7 separate regions of the Homo sapiens genome follow, and regions 1, 2, 3, 4, 5 and 7 are each reported to be linked to region 6. The links are microRNA targets in miRTarBase. Many come from high-throughput screens and were not tested one by one. Region 6 holds a microRNA gene; each other region holds the end of a gene's coding sequence. Distances are between the middles of the regions.

What was found. Region 6 holds the annotated microRNA hsa-miR-922 (GCAGCAGAGAAUAGGACUACGUC, at 1,902-1,924, opposite strand). A microRNA usually pairs through its seed, bases 2 to 8, with sites in the 3' UTR of a target mRNA and lowers its output. Matches are read on the target gene's strand: a 7mer-m8 pairs with bases 2 to 8, a 7mer-A1 pairs with bases 2 to 7 and ends in A, and an 8mer does both.
Region 1: the mRNA of RNFT2 is a reported target of hsa-miR-922. The part of its 3' UTR that is shown has no 7-base or 8-base seed match.
Region 2: miRTarBase lists DUSP2 as a target of hsa-miR-922. Seed matches in the 3' UTR shown: 7mer-m8 at 2,423-2,429.
Region 3: miRTarBase lists CD180 as a target of hsa-miR-922. Seed matches in the 3' UTR shown: 7mer-m8 at 595-601 and 7mer-A1 at 2,741-2,747.
Region 4: miRTarBase lists MATCAP1 as a target of hsa-miR-922. Seed matches in the 3' UTR shown: 7mer-m8 at 1,207-1,213.
Region 5: miRTarBase lists CCNY as a target of hsa-miR-922. Seed matches in the 3' UTR shown: 7mer-m8 at 805-811 and 7mer-m8 at 2,401-2,407.
Region 7: the mRNA of PHC3 is a reported target of hsa-miR-922. Seed matches in the 3' UTR shown: 8mer at 1,335-1,342.

What each region holds. Positions count from the first base shown.
Region 1 is chr12:116,849,000-116,852,093 of GRCh38, reverse strand. It overlaps RNFT2 (ring finger protein, transmembrane 2), which reads right to left. Exons shown (of 11, transcript NM_001382266.1): 11 at 1-2,780. The coding sequence ends at 2,646. Among named protein-coding and RNA genes, the nearest start is that of HRK, 31 kb to the left of the region's middle.
Region 2 is chr2:96,141,208-96,144,301 of GRCh38, forward strand. DUSP2 (dual specificity phosphatase 2) reads right to left here. Exons shown (of 4, transcript NM_004418.4): 3 at 2,947-3,094; 4 at 1,962-2,830. The coding sequence ends at 2,616. Among named protein-coding and RNA genes, the nearest start is that of DUSP2, 2.7 kb to the right of the region's middle. RefSeq lists silencers at 173-222, 283-332 and an enhancer at 1,383-1,452.
Region 3 is chr5:67,180,303-67,183,382 of GRCh38, reverse strand. CD180 (CD180 molecule) reads left to right here. Exons shown (of 3, transcript NM_005582.3): 3 at 1-3,080. The coding sequence ends at 526. Among named protein-coding and RNA genes, the nearest start is that of CD180, 15 kb to the left of the region's middle.
Region 4 is chr16:67,174,194-67,177,193 of GRCh38, reverse strand. MATCAP1 (microtubule associated tyrosine carboxypeptidase 1) reads left to right here. Exons shown (of 7, transcript NM_001040715.2): 7 at 219-1,595. The coding sequence ends at 383. NOL3 (nucleolar protein 3) reads right to left here. Exons shown (of 4, transcript NM_001276309.3): 2 at 2,730-3,000; 3 at 2,250-2,573; 4 at 1,457-2,147. The coding sequence ends at 2,140. Among named protein-coding and RNA genes, the nearest start is that of NOL3, 5.2 kb to the right of the region's middle. RefSeq lists silencers at 807-1,236, 2,610-2,869 and an enhancer at 2,767-3,000.
Region 5 is chr10:35,568,794-35,571,887 of GRCh38, forward strand. It overlaps CCNY (cyclin Y), which reads left to right. Exons shown (of 10, transcript NM_145012.6): 10 at 261-3,094. The coding sequence ends at 377. Among named protein-coding and RNA genes, the nearest start is that of GJD4, 35 kb to the right of the region's middle.
Region 6 is chr3:197,672,597-197,675,690 of GRCh38, forward strand. MIR922 (microRNA 922) reads right to left here and starts at 1,980; the gene lies at 1,900-1,980. It overlaps RUBCN (rubicon autophagy regulator), which reads right to left. Exons shown (of 20, transcript NM_014687.4): 19 at 2,826-2,919; 20 at 1-2,600. The coding sequence ends at 2,422.
Region 7 is chr3:170,094,494-170,097,572 of GRCh38, reverse strand. It overlaps PHC3 (polyhomeotic homolog 3), which reads left to right. Exons shown (of 15, transcript NM_024947.4): 15 at 189-3,079. The coding sequence ends at 343. Among named protein-coding and RNA genes, the nearest start is that of GPR160, 58 kb to the right of the region's middle.

The DNA.
Region 1 (3,094 bases), not on the chromosome of region 6:
TGCCAGATTTCAGAGCAGGGAACATTTCAGAGGTGGAGAAGTGGCTCTGTCATAGAGATCACAGAAGCACAGATGGTTACGGTGCTCCATGCCACTACCCTGGTTGGTGGAAACATCCATAACATAGGTTGTCCTGTTTGCTCTGAAGGCTACCAGAGGGGATGGCAATGTCCACAGGAGCTGCTGACAGGCCTGAGACTTAAGTGAGGGAGATGACAGAATAGGAAGAGGAGAAAGACATAAAGACAGGAGACCAAGGGGTAACCACATCTGGGCCAAAGCTGACCTTTCTTTCTTTCCTTCCTTCCTTCCTTCCTCCCTCCCTCCCTTCTTTCTTTCTTTTTTTTTTTAGACAGAGTCTCACTCACTCTGTCACCCAGGTTGGAGTGCTGTGGTGCAATCTCGGCTCACTGCAACTTTCACCTCCCGAGTTCAAGCAGTTCTCCCTGCCTTAGCCTCCTGAGTAGCTGGGATTACAGGCACCCGCCACCGCGCCCGGCTAATTTTTGTATTTTTTAGTAAAGAGGGGGTTTTGCCATGTTGGCCAGGCTAGTCTTGAACTCTTGACCTCAGGTGACCCGCCTGCTTCAGCCTCCCAAAATGCTGGCACTACAGGCATGGGCCACCACACCCGGCCTCTCGTGTGCTTTTAGAAGACCGTGTCTGCTGGGCCCCATGCCTGGAATGTCTGAGGGGCAGAGCAGTGCGGAGGTTAAGAGTGCGGGCTCTGCTGGGGATAGCGGAGTGTGCCTGTAGTTGCAGCTGCTTGGGAGGCTGAGGAGGGAGGATCACTTGAGCCCAGGAGTTTGAATCTAGCCTGGACAACCTGGATTTTTATTAGAAACCTCATCTCTAATAAATTTATTTTTTTTTAGATGTGGGTTCTGAAACTGTACCAGGCCTCTGTTGGAAACTTGGCCCGCCCATGCTGGCTGGGTGACCCTGGGAAAGTTACCGCACCAAGCTCTGTGCCCAAGTTTCCTCATCTATAAAACAGGGGACCCAACAGTACCTCCCCCATCACAGGGCTGTTGTGAGGATGACAGCACGTAATCCAAGCAGGATGCTGCATGCTTTGCCTGCTGCGCATGAAGTATTTGGGACCTTAAGTCATTACAGGTATATGGTGGGGCCCAACAACTGTATTTTGAAAATACTTTGGGCCAGGTGTGGTGGCTCATGCCTGTAATCCCAGCACTCTGGGAGGCTGAGGCAGGTGGATCACTTGAGGTCAGGAGTTTGAGGCCAGCCTGGCCAACGTGGTGAAACCCCATCTCTACTAAAAATACAAAAAAAAAATTAGCTGGGCATGGTGGCACGCATCTGTTGTCCCAACTACTCGGGAGGCTGAGGCAGGAGAATCACTTGAACCCGGGAGGCGGAGGTTGCAGTGAGCCAAGATCGTGCTATTGCACTCCAGCCTGGGCAACAGAGCAAGACTCTGTCTCACAACAACAAAAAAAAAAAAAAAAAGAAAAGAAAAGAAAAAATACTTCACAGGGCTCACAGGGATTCTAATCTGCAGGCCTGGGCTATCTGGGAGGCAGTGATCTCTAGGCTCCTCCCCAGCCTGCACCATCAAGTCCTAGGTACTAGGTACTAAGTTAAAATAACCAGCAGGTGGGCTGGGCACAGGGGCTCATACCTGTAATTCCAGCACTCAGCACTTTGCGAGGCCAGGACAGGAGGATTGCTTGAGCCCAGGAGTTTGAGAACACCCTGGACAACATAATAAGTCCTCGCCTCTACTAAAAATTAAAAAAAAAAAAAAATTAGCCAGGCCTGGTGGCACACACCTGTAGTCCCAGCTACTTGGGAGGCTGAGGCGGGAGGATGGCTTGGGCCCAGGAGTTCAAGGTTGCAGTGAGCTGTGATTGTGCCAACTGCACTCCAGCCTGGGTGAAGACCCAGACCCTGTCTCAAAAAAAAAAAAAAAAAAAAAAAAGTGAGCCTGGGCACGGTGGCTCATGCCTGTAATCCCAGCACTTCGTGAGGCTGAGGCGAGCTGATCATTTGAGGTCAAGAGTTGGAGACCAGCCTGGCCAACATGGCAAAACCCTGTCTCTACTAAAAAATACAAAAATTAGCCAAGTGTGTTGGTGGGTGCCTGTAATCCCAGCTACTCGGGAGGCTGAGGCAGGAGAATCGCTTGAACCCAGGAGGTGGAGGTTGCAGCGAGCCGAGATTGTGCCACTGCACTCCAGCCTGGGTGATAGAGCGAGACCTTGTTTTAAAAAAAAAAAAAAAAGGAAGGAAGGAAGGAAGGAGGGAGGGAGGGAAACAGAGAGAGAGAGAAAGAAAAGAAAAGAAAAAAGAAAGAGAAAATAACCAACAAGTGGGAACTTCATGTATTGCCAGGTCCTTGACTTGGAGTGGAGAAGGAAGATGCATCTAGAAGGGCATCAAGTCTGAGTTAGGAAGACGTCCCCTTTTGCAGGGGAAGGAGGCACGCACTATACCACAGAACGAGAGAGGAAGATGAAGGTCAGAAGGACAAGACAGGGGCGGGACTTTGGGGTCAGAGGTGGTGGAGGGCAAGAGGCAGGATGTAAGTGCTTGAGGCCTGTTTCTCAGGAAGCCCCCGCAGGGCTGGGTCCGGGCATGCTGACCCTTGGCGTCCTTCTGGGTGTCCTCAGTGTTCGGTCCTAGTACACCTGGAAGTGTGCGGACGTGGCGCCGTCCTTCCAGCAGCGCAGGGTGTCCACGGCGACCGAGCGGCAGAGCGGGCAGGTGCGCTCACGGTCCAGCCACAGGCAGAGGCACTCCTCACAGAACACGTGCTGCGGGGACAGCAATCAGCAGGCACCAGGACTCTTTACTGAGCGTCTGCCTCGGTCTCGGGAGCAGGAGAAGGGGCAGCGGACTAGACAGACAACCCCTGCCTTCGGGGCGCCTGCACTCGCGTTGGGGAGACAATGCGACTCCAAAATACTGAGTTATCAGTAGGAAGCACCAAGATGAAACAGCAGGGGAGGGGACAGGTGTGGTGGCTCAGGACTGTAATCCCAGCACTTTGGGAGGCCGAGATGGGCGGATCACCTGAGGCAGGAGTTTGAGACCACCCTGGCCAACATGGTGAAAACCAGTCTCTACT
Region 2 (3,094 bases), not on the chromosome of region 6:
CCCAGCCGTTATGAGTGTCCATCCTGGTCCAGATGCACACCTCGCATGTGCACACCGGCACATCAGATCAACCTCACTCCTAGGGCCGTAGTTAGCTAACATTTTCGGAGCGCCTACTATGAGCAGGCACTACATGGATTGACTTGTGTAAGTCTACATCCTCAGAGGTGGGGGCTAACAATGAAACTCCATTTTACAGACAAGAAAACTGTATACAGCAAGGTGAAGCAAAACCAGCCCCCGGACTGTCAAACTACACTGCCCTGCCCCACAAGCACACCCTCCCAGGCATTCAGAATGCCGTAAGACAGCAGTTCCCAACCTTTGTGGCACCAGGGACCGGTTTTTGTTTGTTCCTCTGTTTGAGATGGAGTTTCACTCTTGATGCTCAGGCTGGAGTGCAATGGCGCAATCTTGGCTCACTGCAACCTCCACCTCCCAGGTTCAAGCAATTCTCCTGCCTCAGACTCCCAAGTAGCTGGGATAACAGGCGCCCGCCACCATGCCTGGCTAATTTTTGTATTTTTAGTAGAGGCGGGGTTTCACCATGTTGGCCAGGCTGGTCCCGAACTCCTGACCTCAGTTGATCCACCCATCTCGGCCTCCCAAAGTGCTAGGATTAGAGGCATAAGCCACCATGCCTGGCCCAGGATGGTGAGGGGGATGGTTTCTAGGTGATTCAAGTGCATTACATTTATTGTGCACTTTATTTCTATCATTACATTGTAATCTACAATGAAATAATTTTATACAACTCACCATAATGTAGAATCAGTGGGAGCCCAGAGCTTGTTTTCCTGAGACTAGACGGTCCCATCTGGGAGTGATGGGAGACAGTGACAGATCATCAGGCATTAGTTAGAGTTTCATAAGGAGCATACATCCTATATCCCTCCAATGCAGTTCACAACAGGGTTCAAGCTCCTATGAGAATCTAATGCCACCGCTGATCTGATAGGAGGCGGAGCTCAGGCAGTAATGCTAGCAATGGGGTGCGGCTGTAATACTGATGAAGCTGCTCACCTCCGGCTGTGCAGCCCAGTTCCTAACAGACCACGGACAGATCCTTAGAGGTAGCACTGTGCAGAGACAACCCTTGGCTGGATGACACTCCAAATGGCCGAGTGTCCCAGTGAGCCTGAAGCAGGACTGGCTCCCGCACAACCATTTCCAAAGGCCTCAGCACCCCTGCTCACAGGCAGATCACAGCACCCCCTCCCGGCAGCGTCGGCAGGTACCCCTTGGCTTCTGGCGTGGGCGGGGCCCTGGTCTCAGGTCTCCACTGAACCTTAGTCCTATGCTGGGCCCGTAATTGAAGCTCGGCCAAGATGTGCTAGTTGGGTGGGTGTGCAGAGCAATGAATCCCATCCCTGGTGACAGGTCCTCTGCACCAGACACAGGGCCACATGCCTTTGGGGGACATGAAGGAGCTCTGGAACAGGGGACGCTGTGAGCCCCAGCCCTGGGATGTGGGAGAAGAGTAGGGAGGCCATGCAGGCCTGCTGTGAGGAAGTAGAGACCCACACGGCCTGGGAAGTGCCTCTTGTGTGGGCGTGCACACACGCTCCCACAGGAACACCATGCGCAACATGCAGGTGTGCATGGGCCAAGACCACCCACCCCCACAGGACCACACCCTCAGGCACACACTCGCATCCTTCCACATTCCGAAAAGGAAGCGGGGTCTGATCGGGGCAGCACTGGGCCTGGCTCTGAGTCACGGACGGGACCCAGCCTCCCAGAAACAACCCTGTTCAGCTCTGGAGCGAGGTCCCTGTCTGGGAAAAGACGCCAGCCCAGGGAGAACTGGGGCCAAGAGAGCAGCCTTTGTGGGGAGGGTCAGACCTGCCCCTTCCGGCCGCTGGCCCCTCTGCCCATTCACTTCCCAAACCCCAAGGGCACAAGGAAACGTGAGGTCCAAGCAGGCTCCCGGGTATCAGATGAGACCAGATGCTGGGTTGTTGTTTTTTAAATATAACAATATTTTATTGACATATCCTGAATGTTCTGTATAAATATAAAGTGCTAAGTTTCCAACCCCTGCCCACAGGGCTAGGAGGAAGCGGGGGAGGGAGTGTTAAATGTCAGCTGAGCACAAATAATTTTCCAGCGCCAGCACAGGTGTGAAAGGCTCACAGACAGACACACGCAACATGACACACCCATCACTTCCCAAGTCCCCAGCTTCCCCAGGAACACAGGGCTTGGGCTCCAGGCCCTGGGCAGACGAACCCACAGACAGGGCTCCTGGTTGTCACAGCTTGTTCCTTGGAGCTCTCAGGCTGCCAAGGGCTTCAACATGGTGGTGGACCAGGGAGAGTCCACGGTATAGCGTCTAGCTGATTTCTGCCAGAGGATGGGGAGGGAAAGAGCAGACACACCCTTGGTTCCCGACCCCGAATGAGGGCCAGCCTCAGTCCCCCAGCAGAAGAGCACCAGGTCGGAAAGACCAGCATGCCGGCATTCCTAGAGCCCCCATGTGGGGGCTTCTGAAACTCTGAGGAGGTAGCAGCCCTGCCAGAGGTGAGGGGACTGTGCTGGCCCAGAGGGGAGCCCACCAGTCCACAGTCAGCTCCTGCCAGCACAGTGGGGCAGGCAGGCAGAGGGGCACCACCTCAGTGACACAGCACCTGGGTCTCAAACTGCAGCAGCTGCCCCATGAAACTGAAGTTGGGGGAGATGACCCCCCGGCGCTGCTTAACGAAGTCAAAGGCCTCGTCCAGCCGCACACGGCGACTCTGCATGAGGTATGCCAGACAGATGGTGGCAGAGCGCGAGATACCCGCCTGGCAGTGCACCAGCACCCGGCCTCCGCTGTTCTTCACCCAGTCTGCAAGGGAGATGGGGGAGTGGTGTCAGACGGAATGTGCACAGCCCAGGAGACAGGTGCCCCCAGTCCTCTCCTCTGGAGCCCCTCGGGATTTCTGGGCAGAGGTGCCCCCTTACCAATGAAGCCTATGGCCTCCTGGAACCAGGCACTGATCTCCACCATCTGGTTGTCCTCCACAGGGATACTCTTGTAGCGGAAAAGGCCCTCAAAGTGGTTGGGGCAGCTGGCGGACACGTTGAGGACGGCTGTGATGCCACAGGCCTG
Region 3 (3,080 bases), not on the chromosome of region 6:
GAAGACCAACCTACTTCAGACCGTGGGCAGCTTGGAGGTTCTGATTTTGTCCTCTTGTGGTCTCCTCTCTATAGACCAGCAAGCATTCCACAGCTTGGGAAAAATGAGCCATGTAGACTTAAGCCACAACAGCCTGACATGCGACAGCATTGATTCTCTTAGCCATCTTAAGGGAATCTACCTCAATCTGGCTGCCAACAGCATTAACATCATCTCACCCCGTCTCCTCCCTATCTTGTCCCAGCAGAGCACCATTAATTTAAGTCATAACCCCCTGGACTGCACTTGCTCGAATATTCATTTCTTAACATGGTACAAAGAAAACCTGCACAAACTTGAAGGCTCGGAGGAGACCACGTGTGCAAACCCGCCATCTCTAAGGGGAGTTAAGCTATCTGATGTCAAGCTTTCCTGTGGGATTACAGCCATAGGCATTTTCTTTCTCATAGTATTTCTATTATTGTTGGCTATTCTGCTATTTTTTGCAGTTAAATACCTTCTCAGGTGGAAATACCAACACATTTAGTGCTGAAGGTTTCCAGAGAAAGCAAATAAGTGTGCTTAGCAAAATTGCTCTAAGTGAAAGAACTGTCATCTGCTGGTGACCAGACCAGACTTTTCAGATTGCTTCCTGGAACTGGGCAGGGACTCACTGTGCTTTTCTGAGCTTCTTACTCCTGTGAGTCCCAGAGCTAAAGAACCTTCTAGGCAAGTACACCGAATGACTCAGTCCAGAGGGTCAGATGCTGCTGTGAGAGGCACAGAGCCCTTTCCGCATGTGGAAGAGTGGGAGGAAGCAGAGGGAGGGACTGGGCAGGGACTGCCGGCCCCGGAGTCTCCCACAGGGAGGCCATTCCCCTTCTACTCACCGACATCCCTCCCAGCACCACACACCCCGCCCCTGAAAGGAGATCATCAGCCCCCACAATTTGTCAGAGCTGAAGCCAGCCCACTACCCACCCCCACTACAGCATTGTGCTTGGGTCTGGGTTCTCAGTAATGTAGCCATTTGAGAAACTTACTTGGGGACAAAGTCTCAATCCTTATTTTAAATGAAAAAAGAAAAGAAAAGCATAATAAATTTAAAAGAAAAGGCTGAGAAATGAAACTTGGTATCAAATCGACTCCATTAATCTTCTTAATCCTTAGGTCTGTAAGGTCTCTGTAATGCCCCTAGGGTGTGAATGGCTATAAAAAATAGAACCCACCCCCAAGGTTTAGAATTTCTTCCACATTTGCCTCACTCAGTTCAGAAACCAGGCAGGCTCTCTCTGCCTATCTGGTGTTCTGGCTCTTATGTTACAGATCCTAACTTGCAGGTGGGCTGTGACCCAAAATGCTCTTCTCATTTGGGCATCCGGTTCTTAGAAGTCTCTTTTCCAGAAGAACTGTGAAATAAATCGTGGTTTGGTTCTCAGGCTTGCCCTTAAAAGCCTATTTGCTTCGGAGAGCATTTGAATTAGCACATTTACGTGAAAATGAGGAAGAAGGCATCCCTGCATGCTAGCTGTTGGGAACACAGTAAAGCTGGCTTAGTGAGAAGTGGTTTCTGTTGAGGCTGGGGATGTCACCAAAGGTCACACCAGCCATGGACAGGGGCCTGAACCACTGAATGCAGATAGACAAAGAGCAATGTCATGACTTAGGCTTAAAGGGCCATACTCACACAGGCCTGTATCTTCTGAAGTCTTGATTGCCAGACAAGCTTGGCGGGAGCTCCTGGACTCAAGTGGTGCATTGTTCTGTTCAATAACCAATTTTAGGGTAGAGATAGAGATGGTAACTTATAGTTATGAAATTCTGATAAGCTAACAAAATAAAAATGGATCCAACCAATCAGAATATATTAGTCCTTAAGTTGAAGGCATACTAGTGGGACATCATAACAGAGTGAAAACTTGGGGGTCATCCTTTTTGTCTCTTCGCCCCCAGGAAAAGCAGGGCAGGCAGGGAACAGCAGTGGGTGAACCTCTTCTCTGCTCAGGGATTTCAGGCCTTCACACTTGCTCTTTCCTTTGCCTCTAAGATGCTGCCATTGGCCTCCAAATGGCTCCTTCCTTCATCTTGAGATTTCAGTGCTAATATTTTCTCCTTTGAGGGATTTCTTCTCTGACCTAGCTAATCCAAAGCAACCTCTATGCCTCACCTGGTTTTATTATCTTTATAATGCTTATCAGTGTTTGGAATTAACTTCTTCATTTGTTTTAATTAGTTTCTCTTGTCTTGTCTCTCCCAAATACAAGTGCCATGAGAGGGTCTTTGCCTAAAGATACCCTAGAACATGCCTGGGACATAGTAAGGACTCTCTCTCTCTCTCTCCATATGTGTGTGTGTGTGTATGTGTGTGTATGTGTGTGTGTATATATATATATAATTTTTTTTTTGAGACTGATTCTTGCTCTGTCGCCCAGGCTGGAGTGCTATAGTGCAATCTTGGCTCACTGTAACCTCCGCCTCCCAGGTTCCAGCGATTCTCCTGCCTCAGCCTCCTGAGTAGCTGGGATTACAGGCGCCCACCACCACGCCTGGCTAATTTTTGTATTTTTAGTAGAGACAGGGTTTCACCATGTTGGCCAGGCTGGTCTTGAACTCCTGACCTCAAGTGATCTGCCCGCCTCGGCCTCCCAAAGTGCTGGGATTACAGATGAGAGCCATCGTGCCCGGCCAAGATTCAATATATTTTTAATATGTGCTGATCCCTGAGCCTTTATTAGCTCCTAGTTCTGCCACCATGCCTATGCTGCTGACTCTTAGCTCCTGACCTCTCCACGGTTTCCTGGGCCTCCCACATGTTTTTCACTGGCATCTCCTAGGGAAGTTTTTACAAAATGGATTCCCAGGCCTCACCCCCAGATACTGAGATTCTGTTGGACTGAGGTTGGCTCAGGGTTCCCAGCCAAATGATTCCATGTAAAATGTGGAAGGTCCAAACTCTAAGAATCCAGTCTTAGACAGCACCAACCCATTGAGTCCCTGCATATTCTGTCACAGGTAAGCTCTTTCTTGCCTTAGGGATTTAAGCTGCAGATGGAAAATACTAATTGCTGATTTACCAACCCATAGACATACTGCCCTCCATA
Region 4 (3,000 bases), not on the chromosome of region 6:
GGTTGTAGGGCATCTATGACAAAAAGAAACTGTTGAGAGAAAGGGCAAAGATGAAGGATTGAGTCTAGAGGTATAAAACGTTGTAGCTAATTGTGGATCAGGAGGGGAGAGGAAGAAGTCCCGGAGCAAAGGCTGTGAGCTGTAAGCAGTGGGCTGGGACCAGCTACCTGAAAGCCAGGGGCCACTGCCTATGCCTGATGCCCGGCTTCCTCCTGCAGGTGTCCTATGAGGATGTGGACCACCTGCGGCCCCATGGGGTGCTGGATAATACCCGGGTGCCCCACTTCATGCAGGACTTGGCACGCTACCGGCAGCAGCTGGAGCACATCATGGCCACCAACCGGCTGGATGAGGCGGAGCTGGGTCGCCTGCTACCCGACTGATGTCCGTTGAGGGCTGCAGTCAGAGGCCCTGGACAGAAGCTCCAGATAGGCCCCTAGAACATGAAGCAGTTTGCTCTGTGCGTCCACGGCCTAGGTGTTTCTTGGGGGTGTTGGGAGGGCAGGAGCATTCCTTGAGGAGGAGTGGCAACATCAAAGTGTTTGTGTCCCTTGCCAGCCTCCCTGGGGTCTGGGGACCTGCAGCAGCATGTCTGGCAAACTGAGTCGCCCTCCTGCCTCCAGCTCTCTGTTGAGCAGAGGGAAGGCATGGGGGCAGGAAGAGAGCTGAGCATTGATGGGGATGGGGGTGGTTTGGGAATAGAAACTTGTTCTTGCATGAGATGGCTTTGGTTGTCCCAGTACTCCAGTCTCTCCCTTCCCTTACCTGGCCCCTTGGTGCTCCTTCAGCATTTGTGCTGTCTACCTCTCACTGGGTCCTGGTGGGGGTCGGGCTCCCTTCTCCTGGGGTGATTGATGGCCTGAGCCTGGGGTCCTGGTAGTAGAGACCCAGCTGGCCTGGGGTCTGCTTTCCGACATTTTGCCTCTCTCACTGGTCATGTATTTATTCCATATTTATATGGTCTACTTCCTGTGGCTGGGAGCAGCAGCTCCTGAAGGTTCCGTGGGGGTGCGGGGGGTTGGACAGGACACTCCTTCTTGGAAGGCACCAATTTTCCCAGCCCCACTCCCATTACACACACACACACACACACACACACACACACACACACACACACACACACACACACACACACACACTGATTCAGGCCTTGAGAGTCAAGCCCAAGAGCTCCCTTGGCCCTGTTCCCCACTCCCTCCACTGGCCTCTGCTGTTCCTGTCTTTGCTCACACCCTCACAGCTGCTCTCTGGCAGAGGTTGGCATAGCCTAGGAGCAGCTGCAATTGCACCTGAGGGACAGGCCCTAGAGTTTGGTGGCCCAAGTCCTGAACCCCTCTTAGACCAGGTGAGGTGCAGAGGTGGTTGCTGCTTCCAGTTTCCCTTCAGACTTAGCTGTGTGAACCCCACTCCTATCCTTTGGCCTTAGTTTTCCCATCTGTAAAACTCAGAAACGCAGTTGGAAAGTCCTTATTCATTTAGTAAGCGAATATATTATAATATGTATAGAGCGCCTTTTGTGTAAGTCACTGGTCAGAATCCTCACTGAGCTCCCAGTCCAGAGAGAAGCCAGACAATTAAAACAGTAATGACAATGATGTGTGTGGCCTTTGTCTACTCAAGGTCCCTTTCTGCTCCCCTCTTCTAGTCTCACTTCCCAAGGCTGTGAGCTCTAAGCCCTCCCTATGTGGAGAGAAGTCACCCTCCCCTTGCTCCATGTTCAGCTCAGGAACTTGCGTGGGGTTGAGCTGGTACCTACATATGCTGCCAAGTGGCTCACCAGGGGAAATGGGTTGTGTATGCGGGCAGGAGGGTCAGGTCCTTGTCCCACTAGGGGGCTAGGTTTGGGATCTCCAGGGTGCAGCCTGGACTCCTAAGGGCAGATTAGGGCTGAGGACTGGATGATGCTCGTGGTGGGCTTGGGCCTGCCCAGGTCCCTGGGACTCAGAGGTACCCACCCTAAGTTCCTGGGCAAACAGCCAGAATCGTGGAGAGAGCCCAGGTCCCGTCCGACCCTCCGGAGTTTATTCACTTCCAGCGGTACTGGGCTGGACCGAGCCTTGGTGGCATCCGATTCAGCTCCAGCAGCATCCCAGGTCCTATCCAGCATGGGCGGGGCACCGCCTGTCAGAGCTCTGGCCTTCAGGAATCTAGAGATGACGGGAACAGTGGTCAAAGAGGTGGGGTCCGGCATCCGCTTCCCAGGCCATGCCCTCCCGCCAAGCCGGCTCAGGGTTTGGGCGGACTCACACCTTCGGACTCGTCCCTTTCCTCGAAGTCGGGCTCGGGCTCTGGGTCCGGTTCTGGCTCCAGTTCCGGCTCTGGTTCTGCTTCAGCCTCGGGTTCCAGCTCTGGCTCTGGCTCCGGCTCCGGTTCAGCCTCTTTAGAGGCCTCAGCTTCCAGCTCTGGCTCTGGCTCCTCCGGGGTCCCGGATTGCACCGCCTCGGAGCCCTCAGGGCCCCCGGCCTCGTCAGGGTCTGAAGCTCTGGGCAACCCGGGGCATGTGGTCCCCGAGCCGGGTGCCTCCGGCGTCCAGTGGCCTGGGCATGGAGGGTCATAGCTGCGGTCCCGGTAGCCTGGGGCGGAAGTGGGAGTGACTGAGGCTCAATTTACCCCTGTGCGGTTTCACACTCGCCTACTTCTAGCGGAGACGACAACCCTGCCCTCCCCGGGCCTTTTGTCTGCCCCAGCCCCGTCCCTGCTCTGCCCTAGGCCCCGCCCCGCGCGCTCACCCGGACCCACGTGCTGCCAGTCCCAAGCGGGGTCCGGCGCGCCCGCGGTACGCTGGGCACAGCGTAGCAGCTCCTGGCAGGCGGCCTCGCCCTTGCCCTGCACCAGCAGCAGTAGGCGGCGCACCCTGCGCTCGGCATCAGGCAGTGCATCCAATGCCTCGTACTCTGGCCCGGTGAGCACGCCCCGCGCCAGCAGCGCGTCCAACAGCAGTCCCGAGTCCGCCTGCAGCGTCTCGACCAGGCGTTTCCGCTCGCGGTCGATAGTCTCTGA
Region 5 (3,094 bases), not on the chromosome of region 6:
CCGACTGTGAGGTGACACTGTACTGTTATTTCACATCCTGAGAGTCTTTTCTCAGACTGTAAGCTCTTGGGAAACAAGAGCTGAGTCCACACTCCCTTCGTATCTCCCTGCTGCCAGCAGAGAGCTGGGCTCTGGGCCGGAGCTCCACAGGGGCAGGGGCTCTGCCTGTCCCTCATGCAGCGCCCTCGGCGCCCAGGACGAGTGAGCAATGGACGCAGATATGGCCCGCCCTGACCCACACTGTCTTTCTTGCCCCTCAGGCCATCTCTCGCCTCTGCGAGGACAAGTACAAGGACCTAAGAAGATCCGCGAGGAAGCGCTCAGCCAGTGCAGACAACCTGACTCTGCCCCGGTGGTCCCCAGCCATCATCTCTTAACTACGGAGGCCCGCCGGAGGCCACACCATCCCTTAGTTTCTCCTTTAGTTTGAGAAAAGACAGACTTGGGGTGGGTTTGTTTTTGTTTTTTCTTTCCTTTTCTTTTTTTACGCATAGCTCCGTCAAGCTGCCTGGATGAGCGCCCATGCAGCAAGGCTTGGAGGAAGCGTCAGTGCCCTGGAGATCCCAGCTCGCTCTCCCCACTGTCAGCAACAGCACTTCCTTCGTGGAGGAAGTGGACTCGAATCCTGGAGGAGGAAATAAAGGGAAAGGGAAGTCGTGGAGAGGCAGGGAAAATGGTTAAGCAGCCCGGCCCTCTGGAGTCCCCATGGGGGCGGTAGCTGAAGTTGGCGAGCGCAGCGGTGGATGCAGAGCTGGCTGCACCCAGGGCTGGGCCAGTGTGTCCTGTAAGACTTCTTGCATTCCTTCTGCTGCTTTTTTGGGATGGGGGTATTTTTGTTCATTTGTTTTTGCCCTGTTTTGATTTTGGTCCCACAGAGCAGGGGATGTAGTTTGTACCCACCATGGCGCAGACTTCCAAATAAATAGTACTGGTCATTTCTCTCTGCACTATTTCTGCGCGCTGTCTTCTGAGCTTTCTTCCTCACCAGTGGGCTGTGCTTGTTCCATTTCTGTACACCCTTATTTTATACCGTTTTTCTTCAACAATGGCGAAATTGACTGTAGTGCTGAACCAAAAGTATCCCTTTCCCTCCTTATTCCTCACCCCAAGAACATTCTAGATCACATGGGTGCTTGTGCCTTCCGATTTTCTTGCATTTGTTTTTTTCCTGACCTGAAGTTGTTGTTACAAAATCAGTCAGACTTTGTGGGCTGAAGGACACGGTGCAGCAGAGGGTGTCCCTGTGAGAGTTCTGCAGAGTGCTGGGCATGTGCCTGGAACTACCGAGTAGGAGCCATTTCTTTGTACCCCTGCCTAATCCATTCCTCTCCTTCCAAGTCCATTGTTGCAAGCAATATTCTTCTCAATTTTTATATGTTTACTTTAAATCAAAGTTAGTCTATTTGTATAAAATTTTTAAAAAATCTAAAAGAAAAAGAAAAAAAACAAGGGTGGGTTGGGTATTCCAGTGGGAAGATCATTGAAGGGAAAAATGTTACTATTTACTGAGGTATTTTTCACAGAATGATTGAATTAAAAAAAACTCAACTTGCATTTTCATTGTGGGTGCTTAGAGAAGTTCTACAAAATTCAAACTGTGAAGGTTTATGCTTCATTAATTATGACCATACTTTTTCATTTTCTGACGATCCCTGATTTCCTTATGGACTCAATAAGAATCTTTTATATCAAGTAAAATGAAAGTTGATGATAGAATATCAAATAGTGAATTTGATATGAAATCTAAGAGTGTGAGTCACTTGCATATGTAATGCTTTGGGTTTTTGCATATTTTCTTAGGTCACAGTGACAGGTTTCTGAGTTGTTTCCCTTTTCAAGTCTCTGGGAGGCCAGTGGCAGCAGCAGGTCTGTGTTTCACCTTCTTCCCATGTGAGCTTGGAAAACTTTGGCATCTTAATTAGTCTTGAATCATACACCTGATCCCCAAACATTGCCTGCTCTCAATGAAACATGCTTTGGAAATGGAAGGGACTCAGAAAGTCGAAATCCCAAGAACTCCAAGCCAAAAGTGTTAGGTTTTAGTGAAATTTGTGTCAGGTATAAGCATACCTGTTTGGGCCAGAATTATTATCACAGCCTTTCTGACCCAAACTTTCAAAAGCAAATAAACAGCATATAAAACGTTAATTATCTTTCCATTGTAATTGTGATGATCTACTCTGTATGGGTACCAAAATCACCTTCTCTCTTCAAGTCAAAGTTGAATTTAGAACTTTGAATACAGGTCAAAAAATGTAGAAAATATCATTTTATATTCCCTAATCTATATAGCTGAAAAAGGGTTGTATTTTCTTAGCTGAATATGAATACCTCTTAAACATAAATTAGTTCCTCTCCAGTGAAGTATCTTATTTTACCAATCCATTTCAGGAAAGAGGTTCTGCTGCCGTAAAGGCAGAAATTTTATTTTTATCCCTTTTATTTGAATGAGAGATTTGAAAATCGAATTATGTAAATATTTCAATGCATCTGCTATTATTTTGTGGAGTTTATTAAACTACTTTAAAAAAATTGTATAGTCTATTTATTGTATGTATGTACATACAGTCTGATACCTAAAATTTAAAGTGGATTCCATAAAACCAGACTCAAGTCTTGTTTAGACTACTGAATACTGTTTTAGCCTGTGCCCTGGATTCTACCTCTGTATAGGAAAATTTTCCATATTCATTAATTAGTGTTGATCTGTATTAATTGGTTATGTTTCTTGCACTAAGGATGTTTAAAACTCCGCTGTAAGTGTAGATTTTAGTTTTACTGGCAGGATGAATCACTTGACACATAGGTAGATACTTGAGGTTCATTTTCTTTTCTTTTTCTACATGATGATGAATAGTTATGTTTTCTTCTCTGATTTGTTCAAAGTTTGCCAAAAGAAAACACAAAACCAGTACAGTACTTACTGATAAATCGTAGTGACTGTAATTTGTTTGTAAGGCGAATTAATGCTCTACAATTAAAGCTGGATTACTATTGAGGAACACATTGTCTTAGTGTAGTTTTTGAATGGAAAGTTTTTGTCATTAAGGATGAAGGAAACGACACAATTTGTTACTTTAATTTTATATTTGAT
Region 6 (3,094 bases):
CATTGTCATCCTTTGATCCTATGCTGATGTGAAACAGGCAGGACAAGACGGCACATCTGTCCTCCAGCGCAGTGACCTGGAGAAAGAGCTGGATGTGTCACCTTTTTGTTTTTTGAGACGGAGTCTCACTCTGTCACCCAGGCTGGAGTGCGGTGGCGCAATCTCGGCTCACTGCAACCTCTGCCTCCCAGGTTCAAGCGATTCTCCTGCCTCAGCCTCCCAAGTAGCTGGGATTACAGGCGTGTGCCACCACGCCCAGCTAATTTTTGTATTTTTGGAAGAGACAGGGTTTCACCACATTGGCCAGGCTGGTCTCAAACTCCTGACCTCATGATCCGCCCGCACTGGCCTCCCAAAGTGCTGGGATTACAGGTGTGAGCCACTGTGCCTGGCCTGGATGTGTAATTTAAACCAAAACTGGAAGTAGAGCTCATTTTTATAAACTCCTGGGTCTGAATCTGGGACCTAACCCCTAGTTAAACTTGAGTTCTGTGGGGTCATTCTTAAAGCTCCCTGAAGGACCTGGGCACTTCTAGTCACAGCCCTTCAGAACTTCTGGGACTTGGCTTTTTGAGTCTCACTATGAACAGAAGGGAGAACAGCCTCAGGGTCTTCTAGCCCTACATGGCTTTCAGATCCCAACTTTGAGGCAGAGGAATCAAGGGCAGGGGCCAGTTCCCACATGTTCCCTCTCACGCTGGTGGAGCCTCAGCCCTGGCCATCACCTTAATGCCTCTCCCACTTCCCTGGGAGACTCCTTCTTACCGCCAGCTCAAGCTCTCATCAGCTTCCACCAACCACAGGCAACTTTCCGCTCAGCTTCCAGGGCAGCACCCACGCCCATTTCTTTCCTACCAGCAAGCAACTATGAGAAGACATGCCCATGGGCAGAATTCAATCCCAGAACAAAAATGATGCAGGCTTTAGTTCACAGAGCTGCCAGCTCTTGGAGAAGCCACTCTGACCAGTGTTTTCACAGAGGTTAGAAGCTGCATCAACTTAAGGAACATCACAAACACACACATGGCCCCACCCAAGGACTTCACTGTCAACACACACATTAACGGGGGGGAAGGGGGAGGCAGCACACCAAAATCAGCATTATCAAAAGGACTTCACCATCAACACACATTAACGGGGGGAGGGGGGCAGCACACTAAAATCAGCATTATCAAATGAACAGATAAACATTACCAGGCTACACAGAGTTAAGTGCATAATTGGCATAAAGGCTCTTGTTATCCCAAGAACACAGGGACATTCACACTCACATCCACAAACCGTCAAGTTCTGTAACAGCACTAATAGCAGGAAGCTTTTCTCCAACTTTGACCAAAGAAGCTAAGGCAAGAGAGACTCGGCCACCAGGGAAGGACCCAGCTCTGCTGCAGGAAGGGGAGAGAACGGAGTCGGGTTGTACTTTTACTCAGAAGCACAACGACCATCTAACAGAGGACAGAGTCATCAGGGACACGCTAAGAAGATGGTGGGTGAGGTTCCTGTCCTCACCTTAGGATGGCATCAGGGACCTGCCTGAGCTTCAAAGATCACACCTGCACCAAAAAGCCAGGTTAACTAAGAGACCTTAACACCAAGAGGGGGCCGACCGCTCCTCTGAGTAAGCGCTCCTTCAGCGACAGAGCTGGCGCCTCACGTATGCTTGCGGCGTAAGGCTACAGGTGAGCCTGGCCTGAGCATCAGTTCTGTTCTTTGCTTCAAGATCACCAAGGTAGATGAAGAAAGTCAGCTTGTGGCATCCTCTATGCTTCAAATATTTCAAACAGGAACTCCCGGCAACATAGGGACATTCACAGCTGCCTCTGAGGTCTCTGAGGAGTCTAGGATAGTCAGGATTGTTCTGTGGCCCCCAAAATACCCAAATAAGTGGACGAAATGCCCATGACGTAGTCCTATTCTCTGCTGCTTCTCCTCGGGGCACAGTCTGACCCCAGTCCAGGACAGGGAGAGGGAAAACGCCATCCCCGTTTCAGCAGCAGGAGAGGTGGTTGAGAAAGGCCTGGCTCAGAAGCTCCAGAACTGAAACAAAGGAAAATTGGAAATGATACCTGACATGCAGGTGAAACCTAGAGGAGAAGGCCACAGACGCTGGAAGAACTTGGTCTTGCTGTCTCTTCCACTGACAGAGGCACTAGAAGCTTCACTGAAGGACCCGCATGTCAGTTCTGATGGAAACACCTGGTGTTTACAAATTATCTGTCACCACAGACTCTGGACCCATCAACCTGCCGACGGCTGACTGCACACAGACGTCAGACAAGTCAGTAAAAAAAAAAAAAAAGATGATGATAATTAAAAAAAAAAAAAAAAAAAGAAGCCCCAGGTGGGGCGAGTCCTTCAAAGAGTGGCTCAGTTCTGCAACAGGTGTGACCCGGCCCGGAGGGAGGGCTGCACGTGCTTTCTTCAGGTGGCCTCCAGGACGGCGGCTTCCAGGGCCAGCGCTTCCGCGGGCTCCTCCTCGTAGTCTGACAGGTAAGACTCCAGGCTCTGCCTGGCCAGTGCCTCCCGCCGGGCCTGCAGCCGCTCGCAGCGCGGACAGCTTCCAGACTTGAAGCAGGCTTTATGGTAACACGCTTTACACTCTACTCAGGTTGGGAAGGTGGGGGAGAGAAGAAAACAATTTGTATTATCTCCAGCTAGAGGTCAGTTGCTGCCACAGCCCCTTCTCGCCACCAAGGCGTGGTGTCCCCTGGGGAGGCCCCGCGAGGTGCTGAGTGGCACCGAACTCTTGCTAACAGGGGTGGCTCTGGGGAATCAAGGAGCCCTGTGTTCAGGCTCACTTGCCCGATGCCTGCACCTGCCCTCACCTTCACAGGTCCGGCACTTATGGAGCTCAAAGGGAAAGATGATGTCATCCTCATTCTGACAGAACTCACAGATGAAGCCTTTGGCTTGGCAGAGCTGGGGAGGAAAAACACAGATGGCAAAATGAGGAGCGGCACATCAGGAACTGGCACGGGAGGGTGAACACCGAGGAGGGGAGTGGTCTACAGGGTTCTGCTGCCCACAGGGAGGAGGCCTGGGCTGGACTCAGAAGCATGAAAGCTAAACTAGGACCAGGGCCGGGCAGCGTTAG
Region 7 (3,079 bases), 28 Mb from region 6:
CTTATTTTCAGAATGCAAATACTCTATTCTTCAAGAGTGAACTCAAGACTACCATAAATAAATTTCATTTGTTTCTCAGCCTGTATTTCAGATTCTCAGACCCAGTGAGAGCATAACTGTGACTGTTAGGAGTAATGTCTAATTGTTGTATATTTAATTCTAACTTCTGTCCTCTGGTCAAATTCCAGGCTGCCAGGATATCGCAGATGAATTCAGAGCACAGGAGATTGATGGACAGGCCCTTCTCTTGCTGAAAGAAGACCATCTCATGAGTGCAATGAATATCAAGCTAGGCCCAGCCCTGAAGATCTGTGCACGCATCAACTCTCTGAAGGAATCTTAACAGGAACATGAAGCCTTGATAAAACAGCAGTTTTACTTTTCTCACAAAAACTTGTAAGGTAAAGGCCTAACTTGGTCTAGAATATGACACTTATTGTGGTGGATAGCCAAGCACATTGGGATCTCCACATCAAATACTGACATTTCTTCTACAGGTATAATAATTCATCATGCATTTTCATAATTAATAAACATTGGTAAAATTAATTTTACAGGTTACATGAAACATTGAAAGACTTGTTACAGAGGGCCATGATATTTTTCAAAGAAATGTGTTATACTAGATAATTTTTTTAAAGGTGATGTTTATCATTAATATAAAGAATCCTTTTAAAAGTAATTTAATGATTTACATTTCTCCTCTTTTGATTCAATTTTCTTATACATTTTTTCTACCCTATTAGTTTTCTAAAGGTTGTCATGAGAGGTATATTATGGAATAATTTAGTAGTCCAGTGACAGAATCGTATGAAATCAGTGTACATTTTAAAAAACATGTCTTTTAGACATATGCTTTATCTATAAAAAAGGAATTGTGTTCTAGTATGAACAATACTGATCTGGAAGTGAGAAGAGTTAGTTTCTATTCCAAACTTGACCAAGAATTTGGTTTGACTGAGAACGTTTTCCTCTCAGTTTTTGTACATTTATTTAGAGCAGTGGTTCTCAGTGGAGGTCAGTTTTGATCGCCAGGGGACATCTGGCAATGTTGAGACATTTTGGTTGTCACAGCTTGGGGGTGGGTTCAGGGGAGGGTTGCTACTGGTGTCTAGTAGTTAGAAGCCAGAGATGTTTCTAAACATCTTATAATGCACAGGACAGCACCCCTCCACTGTAAAGAATTATTGGTTCAAAAATATCGGTACTGCCAAGGTTGAGAAACTCTGATATAGAAGGAGTGATAAATATTGTTTTCACCCAAAGGAATACTTTTAAAGGATGAAGCTTACTAAACATATATGATGGAAGTATTATTCAGATAACATTAATATTCTGCTGAATAATTTTTTCTAGTTTAATCATACTAGAAAAAGAAAAAAAATCTACAAATTGTCCTATAAAATAAGGACAAACATGCAAATAATTTAACTCTCAGAAAGTACTAATTCATTCTGATTATCTTTCATACCTCTGTGCTCCTCTGCACTGACGAAGACATAATATGATTATACCTATGAACTAGTGCACAGCCTTTTCTGGCAAGAAAATAGTTTGTAGCAGATACGTGGTTGCTCTTTGGATTTTTTTCTATTGTTGAACATGCTGGGACTAGCTAGAATGCACATTCCTACTTCCTTTACCAAACGTTTGCATGCTTCCTGCAAAGCACTTACCAAGTGATTTCTCTTGAACCATCGGATATAATTTTGTATGTACATGTTTGAGGAAAAAAATGTAAAGCAAAACCTTTTACTGAACAGTGTTCTATAGAATTATGACACTAAAACAAAATTGTTTGTGGAAGCCCTGAAAGCTTTATAGTCCTGGACATCAAAAATTTTATTTGAGATGATGAATGTTTTGTTTTCATCTTTTCTTATATTACCACAATTGAGATATTTTAGTAATTGAAGGAACATACACAGATATTTGGCAGAAGTCGAGTAAGGAGGGGAAAAAAAGAGTCCGTGAGTTTCAGTCATTTTCACTGCTCTTTTCAAAAAGATTGTGTTGAGCTGGTAGAAGACTAAAGATGTCACTGAAGACATCACAGATACTATATTTATCTTTTGGCTTTGTGTACATTAGAGAATGTTGATTATTTTTATACAAAAATACAGCGGGTAATTTTTTTAATCTTTAGATGCCTCTTGTTTGAATGTATGCTTTGTGGAATTCTTTGTGTAGTAATGTTTTAAAAAAAGATGTTTACTGATAGTTACATGTAGGATTAGAATATGTAATATAATATAAGGCTCATGTTCCAGACCTACGATAGCTTGTAGTCTATGTTACGTATTTCTTTATATCACATTTTTAATCATTGGATTAAAGTATCAAGGAAAGCTAGGTACTCTATAATGAGTTTTCATTTATTAGCAGTTAATCATCATGACAGAATTGTCATATGCTTGACTTTTCCCTCTTCTTGGAATTTCAGAACACAAATACAGGCTAAGCATTAGTAAGAGATGGCCCACAGTATGAGAGAGAGAGGTGCAACGGAAAATCTCGCCTGGAATTAAAACTTTTCATAGATTATCCACGGTTAATACAAAATTTATTATATGGGGATAGACTGCTCCAGCAATAATGATTACATCCTATAACTGTATTACCTATGGCCTTTAAGGTATCAATTTTGAACTGTGTTGTAGGCTCTCCTTTTATTTGTTCTCTTTCCTAATAGCAGCCATTCTGTACTTATTGAAAGCCCCTGTGCCTACTGCTGTCTTAAGTATTCAGGAGGGGCTTACAAGAGGGTTTTCTATTGGAGAATACCGTATAATCTTAAATCTAGTCCAGATCTCTGTTGTCCCCACTCAAAACATACACAAAATATGCACTTGCTTTTTTCAAGTGAGTTTTTATTTAAAAATGGCTTGTTTGCTATCACATTGGTGCAGCTGTTTCTTTCAAGATGAGTTAATCATCTTAATTTCAAAGCTTCAGCTATATATAATGGATATATAGACAACACTGAGCATCCACCTCTCTCCTGAGCTTTAAAGCAGAGTTTCAGTATGATATAGGTGGGGAGAGTAAATTGTTTTCATATCCTTTCATACTACTACTA